Homo sapiens: one gene and its partner. The protein of the gene in region 1 interacts with the protein of each later gene in a pairwise test. Each region holds a gene or a part of one and is shown on either strand. Other genes may lie near its edges.

What was found.
Region 2: the proteins of KANSL1 (region 1) and NINL interact in a two-hybrid assay, tested with the Homo sapiens proteins (one large-scale study listed by BioGRID and IntAct).

Annotation. Positions count from the first base shown.
Region 1 is NC_000017.11:46,039,930-46,043,429, reverse strand, and holds part of KANSL1 (KAT8 regulatory NSL complex subunit 1), read left to right. Parts: intron 1-3,500. UniProt on the Homo sapiens protein: Non-catalytic component of the NSL histone acetyltransferase complex, a multiprotein complex that mediates histone H4 acetylation at 'Lys-5'- and 'Lys-8' (H4K5ac and H4K8ac) at transcription start sites and promotes transcription initiation.
Region 2 is NC_000020.11:25,452,197-25,454,364, reverse strand, and holds the end of NINL (ninein-like protein), read left to right. Parts: intron 1-722; coding exon 723-914; 3' UTR 915-1,668; downstream 1,669-2,168. UniProt on the Homo sapiens protein: Involved in the microtubule organization in interphase cells. Overexpression induces the fragmentation of the Golgi, and causes lysosomes to disperse toward the cell periphery; it also interferes with mitotic spindle assembly.

The DNA.
Region 1 (3,500 bases):
TTGTTCTTGCTTTCTCCTTCTACTCGAGATAGAACCAGGACCTGAATCCAGGCCTACTTGTTTCTAGTCATTGCTGTTTTCACTATAACCAGGTCTCTCATATCCCTGTCCCTTTTTTTTTTCCTGGCTTCATTTTCAGATTTGGGAGAACGATGGGGGAAAATAAAAGGAAAAAATAAAATCTATGTTTTTTGGAGTTCCATTACATATATATACAAAACATACACAGCCTTTGCCAAGTGGGAGTAACTCTTCTGCTGACAAAGGGGTATTGTGGGATGGGCAGAAGTGACCTCGTCTCCTTTCTTGAGCCTCTTTTATACATTCCAGCTCAGCCCAGCTTTCAGATTGTTTTACAGGGCCGAATGCTTCTAGACAATGCTTTATTTCCTAGGATTTGGTATAGCTGAGTTTTTAAGTGTGGAAAAGAGTGATTATGAAAAATGTTTGAGAAGACAGCACTGTCCTCAGAGACTGTGTTTTTACACTTGGACAGGTAGCAAATGTTTGTTTTCATTAAAACTTTAATAGTTTTCCTAATTTGTTTCACTGTCATAAAGCCCAGCAATCATGGAGCTGAGGGTGCTTACCCACTGGGAAAAATCATCCCTGAGAATGTTAGCTTTTTTTTTTTTTTTTTTTCCCCAACTCAGATTTTTATTCCAGTCCTGGAAGGCCTAACATTCAGTCCTCGAAGGCATAACATTCAGTGTCATGAAATTCATCATCTATACCATAGGCAGGAGTGGCTAAATTTCTTTTACTCTGCAGAACTGGCTTGGAAAATATTTTGTACTGTCTATTTCTTGGGAGTAATTTGAGAAATAATTGACTTTACTACAGAATCCTCTCCATCCTCTGGATCAGTGAGTAGCCTCAAGGTATATTGTCTAAGAGTATGGGCTTTAGGGTTGTATAATCTTGAGTTTGAAAGTTGGTTGTTACTCATTAAACTATGTAACCTTGGACATAGTTAATGTACCTTTCTGCACCTGTTCCCTATCTTTAAAATAAGCATAATTGTGTTTGCCTCATGGAACTGTTACAAAGATTAAGTGGCACACGCATGATGATAAACACACAGTGCCTGGCAGATAATAATGGGTTCAGTAATGTTAATTTAGACGTCTCTTCCCTGCCTTCTTATCCTCAGTTCAGATTGAGCATATCCTCTGTGCTCTATGGGACCCAAAACCCCATAAGCTTTTAGAAAATATATTAAACAGGCCGGGTGCAGTGGCTCACGCCTGTAATCCCAGCACTTTGGGAGGCCGAGGCAGGTGGATCACGAGGTCGAGATCGAGACCATCCTGGCTAACACAGTGAAACCCCGTCTCTACTGAAAATACAGAAAACTAGCCGGGCGAGGTGGCGGGTGCCTGTAGTCCCACCTACTCAGGAGGCTGAGGCAGGAGAATGGCATGAACCTGGGAAGCGGAGCTTGCAGTGAGCCGAGATGGTACCACTGCACTCCAGCCTGGGCGACAGCAAGACTCCGTCTCAAAAAAAAAAAAATATACACACACACACACACACACACACACACACACAAAATAAATTTCTAATAGTTCTAGAAGACATGCTATCAGTGACTGGAATTTGTAATTATTTTTGAAAGATGGATAAAGACAAGATAACTGTGAAGAAATAAATAGAAAGATAGCCCAAAGCACATGCCAGGAGTAAGTTGCTGTGAGGTGGGAACTGATTACAGGAGGTTTTTGACCCAGAATTAAAGGGCAGAAGGAGTAGTGATAGGACCTGGGCATTTGTCTGGGTGATAAATTTGGACTCATTTTGGAATAGCTAGGTTAGATTTTCCTTTCCTGTCCTCTCACCCCACCAGAGCCTTCTTCCTTGAAGTAGTGGTGTTTCATTCTATTCTGAAGCAGTGGATAGGGACTCTGGCGGGAACTTCTGAGCATGCCCCAAGTGGTTACCGATTCCCAGGAGGAACTGGGAGGTGAGGAAAAATGTGCTGGCTTTTAGATTTGAATATCCCTGGAAAGCTTTGCAGAAGCTTGAAAACAGACTCACACCGCTATCCATGGTGGTGAAATGTCAGAATATTGAAAACATGAAAAGGAAAATCTAAAAGTTGTACATCAGCACCAGAGGTTCCAGTCAGAGTAATAGGCAAGAAGTAAAAAAGGAATACAGATTGGAAAGAAAAGGTAAAACAGTCTCCATTTGTAGATGATGTACTTATGTCTATAGAAAATCCTACTGAATAAACAAGAAAAAGTCTATAACGAAGTAGTTTCACAGGCTACAAGGTCATTATATAGCAGTTTATTGTACTTCTATATACTAGTAATGAAGAACTGAAGTTGAAATTTTAAAAGGTACTATCTTTAATCATTTCCATCTGAGACTTTTGTCAGCCTGGCCTTCACTGCCCGTATTTCTATCAGTATTTTGGTCAAAACCATTTAACAAATCTCTAAGAAGTTCCAGACTTTCCCTCATCTTCCTGTCTTCTTCTGAACCCTGCAAACTCTTCCAACTTCTGCCCATCAGAAAACATTAATTCTTAGGAATAAACTTAACAAATTGTATTTAAGACCGGTATGTCAACAATAACTAAACGCTGTCAAGAGAAAATCAAGACAAACGTAAATAGATGGAGAGAGAGATACCACGTCAGTCGATTGAAAGATTCAGTATTGGTGGTGGAACACATGGAAGTTGTCCCCAAATTGATCTGTAGAGTCAGTGTAATACCACAAGTTTGTTGTTGTTTTTTGCAGAAGCTTAAAAGGCAAAAACCAGACCACCTACAAGTAAGAAAGAATCCGATTCCCTCTTAAATATAGCACTGGATATTAGAATACACGGAAGAATTGAATAGCTTTAAATGTTTGAGAGGAAAATGGTTTAAATCTAGAAATTCCTTTTCTAAAGGAATTGCTCAAGGATATATTCTTGGGAAAAATCTAAGAAAATGGAAAGATAAGAAACAGCATAAAAAATTCAGTCCAAAAGATGTTGATTTGTGATATTGAACATTAACCAGTCAGCTAAAAATCCCCGATAATCTCATGATGGGAATTGGCGGAGCCACAGAGGAAGGAAAGAGAGAATGGTATGTAGTTCTTATTTGGAGAGAGTATGTAGTACTCAGTACAGTGCCTGATAACATAGATAATGAATATTGTTGAATAATTGCATCCTGATTAACTTTATATTGATAGAAAAGAAGTAGGCTTAAATATGTTTTTAAATCTCTAGAATAGAAACAGGATGTTTTCAAACCAGTAAATTCAACAAACAAGGATACAAGAACAAAAACTCCATCAACCAAACCAAAAAGGTGTCTTGTTTTGTTTCCCTTTGGGACTTGAAAGTAAAAAGCTAAAGTGACCTGCTTGCAAATAGAAGAATGACCTTCAGTAATGTTCACGTAAACAGATCTTCCATATGACAGCACTTGCCCTGCCAAGTGTCAGGCCACTGGGCAAATTAAAGGAGGATGGAGTGTAGGTCTTGAACACTAGAGA
Region 2 (2,168 bases), on another chromosome or scaffold:
CACAGGCCACAGCCCAGGGCCTCAGTACTGCCTGTCCTGCGCCTGCTCCCTCCCCTGCTTCTCTTGGCTCCTGGCCTTGCTGACATCACAGCCAGTAGCGCATACGCAGATGAACCTGTTCCACACTCTGACCGTCCCAGGGCCTTTTGAGGACTGGCCACTTTTGCCTGAAGTCCTTGTTTCACGGCACAAAGCTGCCTCAAGTTTTCTCCATCACATAGCCCAGCAGATTCTCAATTTCCTCTCATGCCAGGGTAACAAAACTTGTCATTATAATCCAGTATTTGTGTCAGATTTCTTTTTTTTTTGGAGACAGAGTCTTGCTCTGTCGCCTAGGCTGGATGGAGTGCAGTGGTGCGATCTCTGCTCACTGCAAGCTCCACCTCCCGGGTTCACACCATTCTCCTGCCTCAGCCTCCCGGGTAGCTGGGACTACAGGCGCCCGCCACCACGCCCAGCTAATTTTTTTGTATTTTTTAGTAGAGATGGGGTTTCACCGTGTTCGCCAGGATGGTCTCGATCTCCTGACCTTGGGATCTGCCCACCTCAGCCTCCCAAAGTGCTGGGATTACAGGCGTGAACCACTGCCCCCGGCCTTGGGTCAGATTTCTAAGAGCCCAAAACTGTGGTTTGCGTAAACCTGGGAGGATAAAAGAGAGCAGGCTGATCTGTAGCGTTTCTCCACCGGCCTCATGCAAAGCATGGCTTCCTCCCCTCTCTAGTTTGAAAAGAACACGAAGTCCGACCTGCTGCTGAAGGAGCTGTACGTGGAGAACGCCCACCTGGTGAGAGCACTTCAGGCCACCGAGGAGAAGCAGCGAGGCGCCGAGAAACAAAGCCGCCTCTTGGAAGAAAAAGTTCGCGCTCTCAACAAACTCGTCAGTAGGATTGCCCCCGCAGCCCTCTCTGTGTAAAGACAGATTATTTTCTAGGATTCATTCGAAAGCACATCTTTTAAATTAAGCCACTGTGCTGCCTTAGATTCCGTGGGTCATGAGCCATGAGTCCTGGGACATCTGAGGATTGGGATTCTTTGTTCACCCCGCAGATAGTTAATGAATGGTCTGCCCTGGGCAAGATGGAGGTGGGGGCTGGGGGAATATGCATGTTGCAGAAGCCGGCGTTTTTATTAGCGGTCCTGAGTAATTTCCCTTGGCAAAATTCCCAGTTTTGCCACTCTCTGGAGCCAGATCCTGGGAGCTGTCAGCAAGGAGCAGGTAAGTGAGCAGTTATGGACAGCACTTTCCATGTGGTGCTTCCGACCCTGGCTGTCAGAGTGAAATGTAAAGTCAGGGCTCTGTACAGTTTTGCCATTTCACTGTTCTGCTTTAAGCTTAGCTTATTAGAACTCTTGGTGGAGGGTGCGTACACACATTCCAGAAAAGGCTTCACTCGCTGGGAACGTCAACCCAGCGAGAAAGGAGGGGAAGCCCCTTCTCCGGGGACCTTATCTGTGGACTCAGGAATGATGGTGTTTATTGCAAATGCACAATCTTTTTCCCATTGAAATGTCATCACACTGGAAATTGTACTATATGTAAAAAAAAAAAAAAGTATAGTTTTATATTTGAAATGTATGCAAATTATGGCCATATGGCTGATTGGAATGTACTACTGTAATATAAAAAGTCACTGTATTTGCAATAAATTCTTTTCTATTAAAATTGACTTCTAAGTTTGTTTTTAATTTTTTAAACTATAAAATATTTCAAACATAGAGGAAAATAGTTATGTAAGAAACACCCATGTGCCCATCAACATATCTAGTAAGAATAATATCCTGCCACAGCACTGTGGAGGGCGGGAGCCTGTTCTGTTCTCAGCCTCCTCCCTCTTCCCGGGGCAGCCGCCATCCCAAAGCTGGCATGTCTTCTCCTTTCTGCAGGAGAAAAATGTCACAGCACCGTGGAAAGATAACAAAGCCTGGAACAGATGGAAAGGTCGGTTCTTTGGAAGATTCGGCAACATGAAGTTGACTGGTTCTTCAAAGTTTACTGATGATAAATGTAATTAATCCCAATATAAATACAGATGTTACATGCCCCAATCAACCCCAGAATTGGACAAGACATTCTAAAGTTTTTACATACAACTAAATAAGCAAACAAAACAATTAGGAAAACTCTGAAGAAAGAAGAGCAATGTATGGGGACTAGTTCTACCAGTTA